Regions from separate parts of the Homo sapiens genome. Here region 2 is linked to region 1. Evidence: fine-mapped expression QTL. Tissue or cell type: pancreas. Region 1 holds a variant in brackets; the other region holds the start of a gene. All regions are shown on one strand. Distances are from middle to middle.

Region 1 (8,107 bases):
AAGTGAAAAAAAAGTAATCAAAGGTAAGAAAGAGACATATGTGAGGCATTAAGCATCGAGTACAGAGGCAGCCAGGGAAGATTACTGAACAAAGTCCAGGGAGTGTAAAAAAAGATAAGGAAGGCAAAGGTAGTGAATGAAAAAGAGATTGCACTGAAGGTTAAGATAAATAATGGGGAAAATTTCAAGTGTGTAAGGAACATAGGGGTCATTGAAGGCGATAGTTGGATGATGAAGAATTGGAGGGTAATTTAAAAAGAGGTAGATGTAGCTAAAAAAAATAATGTAATTATTTAATTATTTAAAAAAATATTTTTTTGCCTTGGAATTCTCAGAAGATGGGGGACAAATGTTAGAAGCAGACATGCATTTCCTAAAAGAAACCAAAGAAACTAAAGAAATAACGAATAACACGATTACATCACCACAAGAGATTCAGAAATTAAGACTTGGGAAATAAAGCATTAGAGAATTCAATTCCAGGCAGAACGTATACAAACACATGTGAATAATGAATAACAGGAACTTAAGAAATAAGAATTTGAAAAACCAAACTTTTGGGGGAAAAACAGTTTCATGATAAGTGGTTGGTGCTATTTTTTGCTGCTCTTACAACACTAGAGTCATCTTCTTAATTTCTCTCCCTCTTTTGCTTCTCAGTTTCCTTTCACAGATATTTATTGAAAGCCTGCTAATTCTAGGCATTATGCTATATTTTAGGAGGTACATGGATGAATAACATATTTTCTATGGCCCTGCCTTGGCAAGTTTGCATTTTGGTAGAGTGGACATACTGTATCATGAATGGTTGCATGACTCAGCCACATACTGAGGTACTGTGAGGGCTGAGGGGTGCAGGAAATAGAGGCTCCGGAGGTCATTTTGGATTGGGACAATCAAATTCCACCTGTAGGGAGGAAATGAATGACATAATGCTTGTGCGCACTGTAAAGAACAATCCTTCCAGAGTGCTTGGTTTTCTTGTGTTTTGTGTAATGTTTAAAGAGTCAGATATGAGTGGTGTGGGTTACATAGAGGGAGATTGTCTAGGAACCTGTATCATCACATTATGTGGGATAACTTCTGCAAATGCTTGGGGGACCCACTTGTAGATGAGCCTGGGGAACTAGTTGTGTTACTGATCCTGAGATCCGGAGAGGGGGTGACATTTGGCCCACAGGGAAAGAGGTGAAGCGGCTAAGTCAAGCACTTTTGCCCTCCTCCAAAGATTAAGGGAAGCCCTGCAGGGGTTGAAGAGCGAGCACTGAGGGGGCAGAAGGAGGATCAAAGGTGGCCAGTAAGGACAATAAAACTCCAAGTGCTTGCTGAAGAGAGGCAGGTAATTTGATTATCCAACTCAGTGTAGTGACAAATAAGGTAATGAGGCTAGGGACAAGAAATCTAGAGGCAAGACAGATCTTCCTTGGTCATGGGCAATAGATTTGAGAGGATAAATCCAAGTGCACAGGCGGATAAAATGTTAATGTCTTTGGCACCAGGTTCTGGAGCAATAAAATAAATCAAACGTTATTCTGGATTGCATAAATAGAGGGACTGTGAACAAGTCCAAGGTAATTAGCTCAGAGTTATAAAAGGAAATGGTGAGTAGTGTTTGACCAAGGAAACTGGGGGAAATGCCTGCTGAGGCTTTCTCATCCCCTACTTTGCTCTCTCCATTGCTTTTGTTCACTGAATTTAACCTTGACTGGGGTTCTCTGCATCTCCAGCCCTCCGCACCTGAAGACAAACATGTATTACATGTGTTAGTAAGACTAGATCACTCTGCTGATATTCTTTTTTCTTTTCTTTTCTTTTTTTTCTTTTTTTTTGAGATGGAGTCTCCCTCTGTCACCCAGGCTGGAGCTCAGTGACAGGATCTCAGCTCACCGCAACCTCCGCCTCCTGGGTTCAAGCGATTCTCCTGTCACAGCCTCTCAAGTAGCTGGGATTACAGGTGCCTGCCATGACACCTGGCTAGTTTTTGTACTTTTAGCAGAGACAGAGTTTCTCCATGTTGGCCAGGCTGGTCTCGAACTCCTGACCTCAAGGGATCCACCCGACTTGGCCTCCCAAAGTGCTGGGATTACAGGTGTGAGCCACCACACCTGGCCTCAGCTGATATTCTTATAGGGAGGAAGGGCTGGAGTGAGAAGCTTGGATCACTGAAACCCTGTTCCATCCTTTCTTATTCTGATACGCTGTCCTAGGAGCCAGGTACTTCATGCCATCCAAGAATCCTTCCTTTAGAACATTTTCCAATGCTATAAAATTTAGATTCAAGAAACCAATGATTGATTTCTTCTTTTCAGACTGTCCTCTATTAGTACCAGTTACCAAAGAACATTTTCTTAGAAAGAAAATGGTCATCATCACGTACAACTAAGTTATTATTTATTAGTTACCAAAAGGAAAGTTGCTACAACATTTAAATTCAAATCAAAACTAATGACTTCCTTCATTAAAGAATTTCTCTTGTATTCAGGGTTTTTTTTTTTTTAACTGCTTACTGGCATAAATGTTCAAGTTTCGATTTCTTACAATGAAACTCTCTTAACATTTATTCCTCAAACAATAATTATGTGTAAATAGACCAGAGGTGCATATGTGCCTGTAAGTGCATACTGTTCCCAACAGCAGTCAAAAATAAATATCTTTGGATCAATCAGGTTTTAAAAAAAGAAAATGATAGGGAAAAGGGAAGTCGTTTATCTAACCTTAGCCAAGCTATCATCTACATTCCTTGTTTACACCTGATAATACATCCATAATTAAGCATTGAACTTATTCCTTTAAGGTCAGGTTGCAAAGGAGTCAGGGCATCAGGAAAAATTTCACATGGGAAATTCACTTTATACCTAGAGCCGGGTGTGTGTCTTGGCTGAGAGAACAAGCTGTCTCAGGTGTGGTGGCCCCTAGGTATTCTGTTGGAGATCCGAGGTTACTGGTTTAATATTAGCTTTGGGCATATTAGCTTGGCTACAGGAGCCCCTAAAGCTACCCTCTCTCTAGGAGGCAAGTTTATTTTGTAATAAATGTGTGAGGGACATGTTTAGATAATTCTTTTAGTTGGAGTGACAGGGAGGAGGAACGGGAAGGGACTGAAATTTTAATGTAGGCCAGTATCTCTAGGGAATGTAAAAAATGTCCAAGTTTCATGTCCAGAAGCTGTAGGGGATTTTAATGCCAGTGAGCTCATTTTAGACTCTACCCTCCTCATTGGAAGGCCTCTGGGCACATGTCTGGAATGTAGAAGGAAAGGCAGTGATATGCTTCACCCATGGGCGGAGCCCTAAGATCTCCATTTAGAAAAACAAGCCCCAATTAGAAAAACCAAAATCAGTCGTTGCTCATGCGCCTAATTTATTTATTTTGTACCTACTGTGTGCCAAACTAACTGCAAACATTGTGGAAGATTCTAGGTAGCTCATTTTAAAGAGCCTAGCAACACAGATGCATATATAAAAGTAATTCAAATACACCCAAAGCTATAATATTAGTGGGAGAATGGAATGACAGACTCATGCCTACAAATTATGGTTCATTTATCCCTTTCTTTACTCTTCATTCTATTGCACACCAATCTTACAACAAAACTGTGCCCAAAAATGGCAGAGTAGTTTTGCAGAAAAAGCACCATTCTCCCCCATGTATGCAGTAGGGCGATGAAATAATGCAACTGGTTTTATCTGAGCAATGGAACAAATCCTTCCCATTGATTATGATTGTGTCATGCACAAATTCGCCAGTCGTTGAGTCCTGCAGCTAGATTTCAGAGATCATTTTGCCTGTAGAGACAAGCCCAGGTAGTGAGGCTGTGTGCTATATTTTGAATCTTGAGAGCAGAAGTTTCCACAGCCTTCCCGAGTTGTCTATTTCAGCCTAGAACAATTGTCATCTCAAGAAAATTATCTGTGTATGGTTGAAGTCCCTCAGGCTACTGGTTAATTTTATCGCAGCCTTCAGACCCCAGAGCTTAAGCTGCCCCCTTTTTTTCTACCCTAGCAAATGGGGAATCCTTTGCCAGACATGCAGCCTTTTTTGAAATTATAAATAAGTTGATAACTATAGGACTGACCCAATTACTGCTACGTGAACTGGGTGAGTCCAAGCCATGTCCTATTGCAGAAACCAGGGGCTGGTGTCAGG[A/T]TCTCAGGTAGAGAGAAGGTAAAAACAACACACTTAGCTGTGTGCTGGGGCGATCTTGCCTGGAAGTCAGTGGGGTGGAACGGGCTGGGCGAGCCTCCTTGTCAGGCCTCCAGCAGCCCTTTTCAGAGTGTGAGCAGACCTTACAAAGAGGCACTGACCTCGCCTTTCAGTTGACGAGCATCTTGCCATGATAACTCACCCCAAGGGGATTTCTTTACAGTGATGTATGGTAAAGGTCAGTCTGAATCAGGAGGAAGTCAGAGGCGGGGGAGGAGTTTAAGAAATGCGATTGTATGACTTTGGAGAGCACACGATAACTCAAGTACATGAACTGAGTTCTGTTTGGTGTCGAAAGGACCTCCTTGAATGAAACAATTAGGGATTTATAAAGAAGACACATCAGCCATCTTACACAAATAGTGTTTATAAGGATGTAGGACTTAGATGAAATTATTCTACTCTCTTAAATGTGGTAGATACCCCTTAAAACATTTAAACTTGCAATTTATGCCAGTTTATGAGGCATGAGTTTGCTTAAATAAAAGTAAATTTTCTAGATGGTTAGAAGGATCACAACTTGTAAAATAGTGGAGATTGAATGAATGAGATATCACTATTTTCATGTTAAGATTCTGACTAGCTAGATTCAGAAAACCCCTAAAAGATAGATTCTACTGAATTCCTATTAATGTGGCTGGAACTGGACTGAAATTTCTAAGAAAACATTTACCAAATCTCTTACTGGTATAAATAAGGTATGTTGGAGGGAGAACCCAATGTTTCTAGGTCTTTCCCGGAACTTCTTTTTATGACCCCCACTCCCCTCGAGACACACTTTAAAGGAATAAATAGTTTCATAGATGTGTGAGGAGGGTAAGGGATAAATAATAAAAGATAGCTCTCAGGTGCTTAGCCTGTGTGCCTAGAAAAAAAAAAAATTAGCAATATCGGAAATACCAGAGTAAACTTTTCTTTTCTTTTTTTTTGAGACAGAATCTTGCCATGTCACCCAGGCTGGAGTGCAGTGGCATGATCTCCTGCAACCTCTGCCTCCCAGGTTCAAGCAATCCTCCAATCTCAGCCTCCAGGGTAGCTAGGATTACAGGCATGTGCCATCACACCTGGCTAATTTTTTTTTTTTTTTTTTTTGTATTTTTAGTAGAGATGGGGTTTCACCATGTGGGCCATTCTGGGTCTTGAACTCCTGGCCTCAAGTGATCCACTCGTCTCAGCCTCCCAAAGTGTTGGGGTTACAGGCGTGAGCCACTGCACCCGGCCCAGAGTTAACTTTTCCAAAGCATGACTTTAATCATAGCTCCCCTGCGCATAGATGTTCTGTGGCTCAAGATTCCCCACCAAATAGAATGAAACCGTCAGCCTGGGTCTCTTCATTTCCCATCTCATCAGCCTCCTGCTCCCTTTACGTAACCTCAACTCCAACCAAACTGGTCTATTTCCCAATGCCCAAGCTCACTGTGGTCTTTTCCATCACAGCCCTTTTACTAATGATCTGCCTCTATTTTTGCCTGTCAAATCTTTGCTTTCAATCCAATTCAATTTGATTCCTTCGTTTGGTCACTTATTCAATCCTGTTCATTCAGTAACCCTTCCATAAGTAGCCACCAATTGGTGAGCTACAGCATCCGAGAAGTGTTCCCTGAATTTCCCAGCTAGAAGTAGCCTGTCCACCCTCGCTAATATGTTAGTGTTTTATACCACTCTGAGATTTATTATAGGCTGCAAGGCAGGTCCTAGCTCTGCCAAGTGCACTGTCTAAACCTCTGTTGCCCCATTTGTAAACTATTGATTCCTTTCTCATGGGATTATTGGGTTATTGTGAGGATTAAATGTATGCAAAGTGCTTAGCATGGCATCAGTGCCCTTTGGGTTACCTGTTATTGCTCTTACTATTACTATTTATTGTGTTTTTATACCTCATTGAAATCTCACTGAGACAAGAGCTGTGACTTGCAAACCTCTGTATCCCCTTTAGCACCTGTCTCTCAGAGAGTGTTTACTTCAATCATTTAAGCAAGTTTGTTTGGTTGCAAGATGCAGAGAACTTCTTCCATTACCTCAAGAAAGAAGTGTTGATTATAAGACACCCTTGGACTGGAATTGAGAACTCATCAGGTTCCTGGGCTACCTCTTCCTCTTGTAGCATTTCAGTTTCTCTCTCTACATCTATTCTGTTCTCTTTTCCCCACGAATCACTTCTGCTGGTGGCTTAGAGTCAAGACACCCTAAATGATTTGCTAGGGCCACTGCAAAATGAATATGAAGCATCCCTTGTTCAAAAAGCAGAAAAAGGCACCATTAAAGTTATAAAGTTTTCTTTCTCTATTCCTCTCTGTCTCTTTCTGTCTCCACCTATTTGCTATTCAATATTATCCTTCCTCGAGCATGGAAATACTCACAGGGCAGGTGCAGACCCTCACAGGTGCCTAGGTGCCTGGCCCTGAGACTTGGCACTCACAGCTGGGTTCTCCTTTCTTGCCAGCCACCAGACAGAAGCCATTCCCCACTAAGGGGTGAGAAAGTCAAGCCAGGCATCCCTCCTTCCCATCAGCCCACAGCTGCAGTCCAAGGCAGACAGGCAATCCCCAGGACCCAATGGAATAGCAACTTCCATGCATGGTGCACTAGGTACATAGATCAGGGGAGGGCCAAAGACTTGTTCCACTGAATCTCCTACCAAATGAGCTGTGATGTGGCAGCCTAGGGCAGGGAGAGCCGCCACCTCACCCATGTGCAGATGCCGCAGGTCACAGCAGCCTGACCTTCTCTGGCCTGCACCCAGCTCCCTGCAGCACACAGGGCAGCTCCCCATGGCACACTGATTGCTGGGTGATGTGGGGAGAGGCAGGGGAGGAGAAGGTAGAAAGAAATGAGCGGGGGGGCGGGGTGGGGAGGGGAGCGCTCTGAGAACACAAGGCAAGAGGGGGCAGCGGGAAGCAGGACCGTGGCTGCTGAGGCTCCGGCCTCAGGAGCATGTTCCATTGTCACATGGAATTCACTAACAAAACCCAAGTTTAAAAATAAAAGAAAGCATTAAATCCAAGCATGGGGTCCTTGTAAACACAGGCCCTTATTTGACCACTGGTCACATGTCCATGAAGCTGGACTTTTTAAAATGGCAGCATACACATGAAAGAGCGTTAATGTCTCAGTCTAGCTCTCTCTAGTATGCCCCTTCTGCTGCAGCTGCTACTGCTAACAGGTTTATTCTATCAGTTTCCAAACAACATATAACTAAAGAAGAAATCTGATTGGCCCAACTCTTGTTCATCAGTTTTTTGTTCATCAGTTTTTTGTTTTGTTTTGTTTTTTAATAAACCATATAGGCCATAGGTTGCTGTCCAGCCAATGGGCTGGCTACTATGGAAACAATGCCCCTGCCTGGTCCATGTTGCATGGCCTCCTTGGTCCACGACTTTGTGGGGCTGAGGAAAGGATAGCAATAATTAAGATCTTTAGTATGGTGTTGAATAAATATATTTGAAGGAGTGATTTTGATTGTTTTTAATGGTAAAAAATGAATGAGACCTCTACGTAGCAATGTTTTGTTGCTTAATTCATAGTTATGCTTTATATATGAAAGAGCATATATATATGAAAAGGATGAAATGTTTTTGTTAAAATGAATACTTTGGTAAACATTGTATTCAGTCATTTATACTGGCTACCGTGGATTTTGTCTGAATTAATGAGGTTTTGGATCATGTAAAATCATGGGCTTTATAGAACATACTTTAGAGATTATCTTATTTAATTCTTATCATTTTACAGATACACAATACATTCATTAGGACATGACAGAATAGGGCAATTAAAGCATAATGCCAAAGCCAGGAAGAATAAAGGAACATCTTAATAAATAAAACTGTGGAAACAAGCAAAAACAACAACAACAACAACAACAACACATTTTTCGATGTCAAAATAAAAAAAATTAAAAATT
Region 2 (8,107 bases), 330 kb after region 1:
TTGTAATTCTCAGAATTGGTTTGTTTAGGATCTGATAACAGTTGTTTGTAAGGTTTTAAATTACTTATACACACTGTCTTCCCTCCTGCCCCCACCTAACAGCTTTAAGAAAGAACAGGAGGCGTGAGCATACACCGAGCAAATGTCAAGGCGAAGTGTATTTAACCCAGAACCAGATGCATGGGTGATAACTGCGAGTTTGTCTAAGAACACACAGATCACCCTTCAGATAAATAAGTAAATGCAACCTGCACGGATAGAGTGTGTTACAAGACCGGTCAGAACTTGCGTTAACTTCTAAGTTACTGGGGTTGTGTTGGAAGTGGGGCGGAGGGAGGAGTTGTCTTAACCCTAGGCTTGGCGGCTGGTTTCAGAGATGGAGCCAATATCTAGGCGACTCCTTGTCTCCAGGCTTCTCCCCTATCAGAAAACAAAGCGGGAGTCGCCCGAGATAGGGGGCTCGGGCCTCAAGTCTTGTCCAGGGCAGCCCGAGACCCAGGAGAATGCCGCAGCTCTAGCAAGAGAGGTTGCCAGGAGCCTGGCCTGTACGCCTCCCCGACAGTAGAGGACAGGACACGGGACAGGGCTGCGCCGAGGCAGCTCACGGAGCTGGGCTGCGAACCGATCTCGCTCGCCTAGCGTGGCGCGCGCTCCTATTTCAAGTCGCCGCTCCTGCGCCCTAATGCGGGCTGCGAACCGCCGCGGCAGAGCGTCGCGAGCCGGGAGCCTCTGCCGCCGAGGCTGGGGGTGGGAGAGCTTCCTTGTTCGGCAAGCGGGTTACCCCGACTTCGACTCAGGCCTGCTTTTGCCCACGGCGTGACACAGGACTTACTGGGGTTCTCAGGGAACTTTTCCCGCCGCCAGTTCCCGGGCGTGGTGTGTGCAAAACGTGCATTCAAGCGCTATGTGCAATTGACACAAACTTGTGGGCTAAAGTGCAAGCCATTTTTTTCGCGTTTGAATCTTTTTCTCTGTCCCTGACTCCTTTCTTCCCCCTACTCCCCCCTCCTCCTTCTCTGCTCTCCGCCCTTTTAAATGTCAAACTGAGCAGATGGTTTTAAGGTGTGGAAAGGTATATAGCCCTTACTCCTACCAGTTTATTTGTGGGCTGGCGCTAACTTATATGTACAAACCAAGATTCTTAAAGAAAACTAGTAGGACGAAAAATAAGAAAGAAAGTAGCTTTGATCCATTCTCAGATCCCAAGTTTCCCCGCTCAATACACCCGCTTACCTCGAAGGGACCCAACCAATAGAAGCATTATTCCGTCCTGTATCTAATGGGCATGTTGATTATTTCTGCTCCCAGCCTCAACTGTCACATCCCGGTTAGAACACCTGATACAACAGTCAATAGTTGGAGGTGTGAGTGGTGCGTGTGCGCTCCTCTGTGTTGCTTCCGTGATAGACGCGTGGGGGGAGTGTGTGGGGGCGGCAAAAGGGGAAAGAAGAAGGCTGGGGATGCTCCCGCAATCTCTTTTCTTATCGCCGACACCTAACCTGACCGACCTAATTTTTTTTCTCCTTTTCACTGTTTGAAATTCGTGCCAAAAGTTTCCTGCCGGGATAGACTCGGACATACTAACATCGCTATTCTTATTCAAAGGGAGGGCTTAATATCCTCTTTACGGTTTGGTGAATTTGAGGCTGAAATTGTAAATTCCCTAGGAAGGAGTGTGTGTGTGTGTGTGTCGCAGAAGACATTGGTAGTGTTTGGCCAGTGTACTTGTAACACACCTCATAAATACCCTGTTGTCACGACACAGCATGATTCAACCTTTGATCTGATTAAATTTGAGGGACACACGAAGACTACTTGTCCTCCTCCTACTTACAAAAATGAGTGTCTAATAGACTATGTATGAATGTTTCTGCTTCGCAGCTCTTGCAAGTCCCAGCTTTTATAGGATCTTTAGGTCATAAACGCGGCTGCTTTATTAAAAGCCGTTTACTGTGCCCGGTGAAAGGGACGTTCTAGCTGCGGCTGAGGCTCGCTTGCATTTGTAACTTGCAAAGCCCAAGGAGATCTTTAAGAGCCACATTATCTAAAGAAATTTTGCTGGTTATTTTTCAAGCAAGAAATGTCAAACCAAAGTAAATTTTCTAGGGCTTTATTTTAGAGCCTGCGATTTATGCGTTTGAAATTTCTTGCCTAATAAACTTTAAAGTTTGTTGCCCAGGCGTCAAAACTGTGTAAATCCTGTATTGAACAGCTATCTTTGGTCTTTCTGGGGCGAGTGAATTAGTGAAGGGTAATCGCCAGATGTTTGCAACATATATATTTTTAAAGGCTGCTTTACCTACAATCCAACTAATGTCAGAGGTAACCAAGGGTAAATATTCCTCTTCCTGATAATTTGGACTGGAGATAAACTGGGACTCAGCCAATGTTGATCTTCGTCTAATAACAGATGCAGCGGACCCGATGTGAAACCTCTGGCACCTATTATTTTAATACCAAACCTACCTGTATTTTATTGTCCACCTCCCCTTTAAAAGGAACCAAGGGTGACACGTATCCTTGACACTACCTATGATCGTTTAAAAAGTGGAATGATTTGCAGATCCCCCCCTCCCTCCTCCTATGCCACCCCCACCCCTAAAACCCCCACTTTTTCTCCCGTATACTTTTCCGTGCCTTCCTCCACCCAAGTCGGAGGAGCGCTCACTCGCTCGGCCACTCGGCGAACTCGATCAGCTGTATCTGGGAAATGAAAAAAGAAAAAGAAAAAAAAAAAAAAAGACCTGCGTCCTGGAAGAGCTAGTGTGAGCCGGGCGCCGCTCGCGCCGTCTCCCGCTTTGCATAGTGCCCGCAGATGGCTCGCTCCGGCCCAGGCGCGGCGATCCAGTCGTCCCGAAGCTGTGGCAGGGTGGGGGTGGGGGTGGGGGCCGGGGATGGAGGCCGGGGAGGGGGAGCGCAGGGCCCCTCTCCCCTCCTCTCTTCCCAGCCCCTCACCCCCACCCCTTTTATATTTTTTTTTCCTCCCAAGTTCTCTTGCCTTGCTATCCCCCCTTGAATCCGAAGGCGCCTCGCGATTGGGTGCTGGGGCCGGGTACGTCAGATAGACTGTGACGTGCAGTCTTCCTGTTTCCTTCAGCTGTGTCTTAAAGTAAATCTTGTTGTGGAGCGGAGCCCTCAGCTGAGGGAGCGCTCTGAAATAATACACCATTGCAGCCGGGGAAAGCAGAGCGGCGCAAAAGAGCTCTCGCCGGGTCCGCCTGCTCCCTCTCCGCTTCGCTCCTCTTCTCTTCTTTACCCTTCTCCTCTCTCCTCCTCTGCTGCTCTCTCCTCTCCTCCCGCTCTTCTCTCTCCTCCTCTCCTGCTCTCTCCTCTTCCCTTAGCTCCTCTTCTTTTCTTCTCCTCTTCTTCCCTCTCCTCGCCTCTCCCCTGCTCCTCTTCTCTCGTCTCCCCTCCCCTCCCGCCTCTCTCTCCCCTCTCCCTCTCCCACTCGCCCCGCTCGCTCGCTCGCTGTCGCACAGACTCACCGTCCCTTGTCCAATTATCATATTCATCACCCGCAAGATATCACCGTGTGTGCACTCGCGTGTTTTCCTCTCTCTGCCGGGGGAAAAAAAAGAGAGAGAGAGAGATAGAGAGAGAGAGAGAGAGAGAGAGAGAGAGGCTCGGTCCCACTGCTCCCTGCACCGCGTAAGTATCTTCTTCTTCCCCTCGTGAGTCCCTCCCCTTTTCCAGAATCACTTGCACTGTCTTGTTCTTGAATGAGAAAGGAAGAAAAGAGCCTCCCATTACTCAGACCCGTGTAAACATTATTCCCCCCAGGAGAAAATGGTGTTATTCAAATGAATCATAATAAAATAGCCTCTAAACAGTTTCTAAGCGGGAGCCTCCGTGGAACTCAGCGCTCCGCTCCTCCCAGTTCCTAAGAGTAAGTGATCCTCTTGGCTTTTATTTCTTTCTCTTTCCTGCTGGTGGCTGGGGGTGGCGGTGGCGATGGGGGGGAGGCTGATGTTGCTGGACTTGTCGCTGATCTTGTCACCTTTTGTGTACTGTTTCTGGGGTGTGAGGAGGCGTTTGCTCCCTTTCCTTCTTTCTCCTGCTCTCTCTTCTCAGGAGAGAGGACCGCGAGAGGGACCGGGTCGCTTTTTTGTTCGTGGAGATCCCCGCTTTCCGCCAAACCCCATCCTTCCGATCTCCCCAGGCTAAAACTCCGGGGCCGGTCCCCTTGTCCTTTCTCTTTGTCTTGTTTATTATAGCTGCCTTTCTTCCCGGCTCTTCCAATTTGCTTGTCATTTGCATACCTTTCACTTCTCCTTTTTTAACCCCAGCAGAGGACCGGGAACTGGGAGGAGGAGAGAGGGAGGTGGGGGGGCGCTCTGTTACTTTCGTCTCAAAACGCTGTCGAAGCCGAATTGTGGAAATCCGGCTTGGAGGGGAGCGGTGATGGGTCCCGGGAAACGCGCGCGGCGCCCCTCTTCCGAGCTCCTGGACCCAGGGCTGGGTCAAGTTGAGTAGGGTAAGGCGGCACCGGGAGGCTCGGGGGGTCGCGTGGCGGTGGGATTGGGACACCAGCACGAGGAGGACCGGAGGATCGCGGGCCGGGTAAGAGTAGGGGGTTCTTGGGCAGCAGAAATGGGAGGCGATGAATCTCCCAGCCATCGCTGGCAGACTATGGTGTTGGGCAGCTTCGGTCTGGTCTCGTCTGGGTGGTACCTACCGTTTTGCCCCAGTTAGGAGGACTGGGGAGGGAGGACAGGAGAGGTGAGAGTAATTGTTACTGGGAAGACTAGTGAGGAGGGCGGGAAGAGGGAGGGAAGAGCTGCTATCTTGCCTGAGCAGATCAGGAGGGGGACGCAGTGGGCGGGGGGAGACATCACCCAAAGTCCAGTTTAGCAAGTTGTTGATTCTTCTGGTGTGCCAGCCCGTTACTCCCCCTGCTGAAGCTGAAGGTTGGTGGAGTGATGGAGCGTGGGGATGGTAAAGGAGGAGTAAGTAGCTTTCCACAGACTCCCAGGTCTCTGGCCCCTTCCCAGCTTCTTGGGAAATTGAGAGCCCTCCAGGCAGACAGAGAACAGAACTAGAAGGAGGGGTGGTGCTTAGTCTTAAATAGCTCAAGGAGGCAGGTTGGAGTGTGAAACTGCTGTTCTTGGCAACCCAGAAGGCTACTCTGCCTGGGGGAAGGCTGGAAACTCACCTGCTTGTTTTTATTTTTCCGAGAAGATCTGTGCTGTCTCCTTGAGCTTATAAAAACAGAGGAAGCACAGGGTGGCCTCCTCGCAAAGTCAAGGCTAGAAGACTCCCTTCTCCTGTTCTCTTTTCCACTCATGCCCTCCCTTATTTAAAAAAAAAAAAAAAAAGAAAGAAAAGAAAAAAAAAAGAACTCATTTCCTTTCCTAACCTAGGTAGGCAGAAATCTATTAGCAGAGTGCGCATGGGCAGGGCCTGACAGGTGTGTTGTGTCAAGAAAGACAGGTGCAAATTTCCTCTGTGTCTGTGTGTGTCTGTACAGCTCTAGACCACAATGCTTGCTCGAGGGTTGGAGAGGTTTATGAATTTATGGTTGTCCTGGTTAATAGGATTGTCTGGGCTAATGGGAATTGGGCTGTTGTTCTTTTGAGCCCTGCCATGTGAGTTCTTGGGGTGGGGGGTGGGGGCAAGTTGGTATGTGTTTGTTTATTTTTCTTAAGGATATTGGCAGTCTACTGCTGAGGCTGTGTCCCAGGCTTCTGTCTGCCAGTCAGCCCAAAGCACCCCCACTTTAGGCAGCAGGTGGAGGGAGACTGACTTTTCCTTTGCTTCCTACCAGTTTATGCCTATCTCCCAGGTCTGTGCTTGGCAGAGAGAGAGAGAGAGAGAGAGAACTGTCGTGTGTGTGTGTGTGTGTGTGTGTGTGTGTGTGTGTGTGTGTTTGTGTGTGTGTGGTGTATGCTTTGGATAGCAATGAGTGGTGTGTAACTGCCAAGAATTCCAAAGTCAGTTTGAAAGTGTTACTGTTGTTAAAGCTTATCTTTTTAAGCATGCTTTCTCCTTGCCCAGAAAGAATAGGTATGTACATAAACTCTTTCAAGTCATATGTTAAATAATCTCATAAAGTAGAATGAGCCTGTCATTGTCCCAGACATGTGCCAAATGTCCTAGATATGAATTTGATGGAGAAAGAAAATCTCAAGTACATGAGAAGGTAACTGTGCTTTTCTATTCTGATGCAAGATGTGAGAAGTCAGTTCTACAGGGAATTTCTTGCAAGAACTTCTGAGTATTTCCAAAATGAAATTTTTTGTGTGTGTTGAGGGAGGAAAACGAGAGTATTCACATTAACTTGTCCATGGGTTAAAACATGGACATGTATATGTAATAGTAAAATAGGTGAAGCTAAGGACTGTGGCTTGATGTGTGAGGAAAGTTGTTGGGAATTCAATGTAAGCACTATATCTGGCTTCTTAAAACTTGACCTTTTAAAATTATCTTTAAACAGACTACTTCTGTAGACTGAGTTGCACAGGAATAGGTTGGTTGGCAAATGGTTTTTGCTCATTGGCTTTGTGTTTGGGTAGTTATTGTTTCCATGAAAATGAGATCGTATGTGTCATTTATTCTGTAGACTTCAACATTAACGTCCCCCCACCTCCCAAACACACACACACACACCCAATACTTTCCTTGGATGCTTTTGAAGTTCTTTGGTAATTAAAATGTCATCTATGCCTATGTTCATTTGCTTTATTTTTAATAGGGGTTATCTGTGCTTGGCACTTATTGATATTTTATGTGTCCATTATGCAGAATTCTATTTAGTTTAATCACCACCTTGTGGGAAAAAAAAGTCATGCATACATAACATGCATCTTTGTTCTCACTTTATTCATTTCCTAGCATCATTCCTCTATAAGCAGCACATGCTATCTTAAAACCTAAGCTGGCTTATTCTGTAAGTTGCCAGACTTCCTCTTTATTTGTTTAAAACTCAAACAGGCCTCTTTTCATGAATGTCTTATATCATTTTAGGGATTGTCTTGAATTTGCAGTGTTAATATAAGAAGTTTTAGGTTTCAGATTAACAAAAGAAATTATAAAATGTGACTGATGTTATAATATGAAAATAGATTGTGCATGATGTATCATTATAGGATTTTAATTAAGTACCTGTGTAACTTGGAAAGGAACCATATACATAAGGAATTTCTCAGACTTATTGCCTGTGCATTCTCAAAGGACATTTAGAGAGTTCAATTTTCTGCAAAAAGAAAAAAGTGTATTTTCTTAAGATTATTTCACACTCTGTCTTATTTACCTATCTGATAAGTTGTTACTTTTTAAACAAGTAGAAATTAATATTTTAGGCATGTCTCAGAAAATGTTCTGTGTTCATTTTGCAGGTGAAAAGTGTGTGGAATTTTTGATGGGATGGGAGAATCTTAAATGAAATCTTAAATGATTTGAGAAGTATATTATGACAGGAAATTTAAAAACCTGATAACGCAATCTTAGTTAATTTAGGTATTAACTTATGTCAAGTGAGTTCTTCAAAATAAATATCAAAGGTTTTCTTAACCTGATAGGGAGCAGAAATATCTCCAATATCTCTGAAGAAAAAGTTGCTAATTAGCAGAAACAAATTCTTGAATGTAGTGAAGGGGACAATTTAATGATTCAGGGGCTACTTAAATCAGACCATCTGATTTTTCCCCTTTGAATCACTAATTTCCAGATTGATTTGAAATATTCTTTGTTAATGATATCCTATTTGAAATTTCATAACCAGGTTGACCCAAGTAGATTAGAGGCCCATACAAAGATGATTTTCTAAAAGAAGTCAAGTGTAGGCTTGCACAATTTCTTCAAATAATTTTATCAACAAAGACAGATCATCTAAATAATCCAAGCAGGAAACCATGCCAACCTTACACTCTCCCTGCCTCATAAAAGATTTGTCTGAACTATCTGGATAATTACCGTAATGAAACACTTCTTTGTCCAGAATCTGGACTCCAGATAGATGCAGTAAAAGTTGAATCCTCCTCCCCGAAATAACTTCTTTATTAAAGTAGAGCACTTAACCACTTTATACTTCACGCTGCAGTGTTCCTTTGAAATTCTTTACTGAAAATTCTTTCCTCCTAACCTTAAGTCATCAGTTTCCTTAGAATTT

Which allele goes with the higher level. Alleles are on the strand shown, and positions count from the first base shown. SD is a standard deviation of normalised expression in the study named.
For the expression in pancreas of the gene that starts at base 3,138 in region 2, allele A in region 1 goes with a lower level than allele T (small effect, 0.34 SD a copy in GTEx).

Evidence for each region. PIP is the estimated chance that this variant, and not a neighbour inherited with it, causes the effect.
Region 2: it holds the start of PROX1, and the variant in region 1 is fine-mapped to the expression of PROX1 in pancreas (GTEx, PIP 0.95).

Annotation. Positions count from the first base shown.
Region 1 is chr1:213,657,154-213,665,260 of GRCh38, forward strand. It overlaps a transcript of RPS6KC1 not described here. Among named protein-coding and RNA genes, the nearest start is that of LINC00538, 260 kb to the right of the region's middle. The variant A/T (reference allele first, on the strand shown) is at 4,147.
Region 2 is chr1:213,984,836-213,992,942 of GRCh38, forward strand. PROX1 (prospero homeobox 1) reads left to right here and starts at 3,138. Exons shown (of 5, transcript NM_001270616.2): 1 at 3,138-3,648. PROX1-AS1 (PROX1 antisense RNA 1) reads right to left here and starts at 1,318. Exons shown (of 6, transcript NR_037850.2): 1 at 1,234-1,318. RefSeq lists enhancers at 3,515-4,018, 4,019-4,522.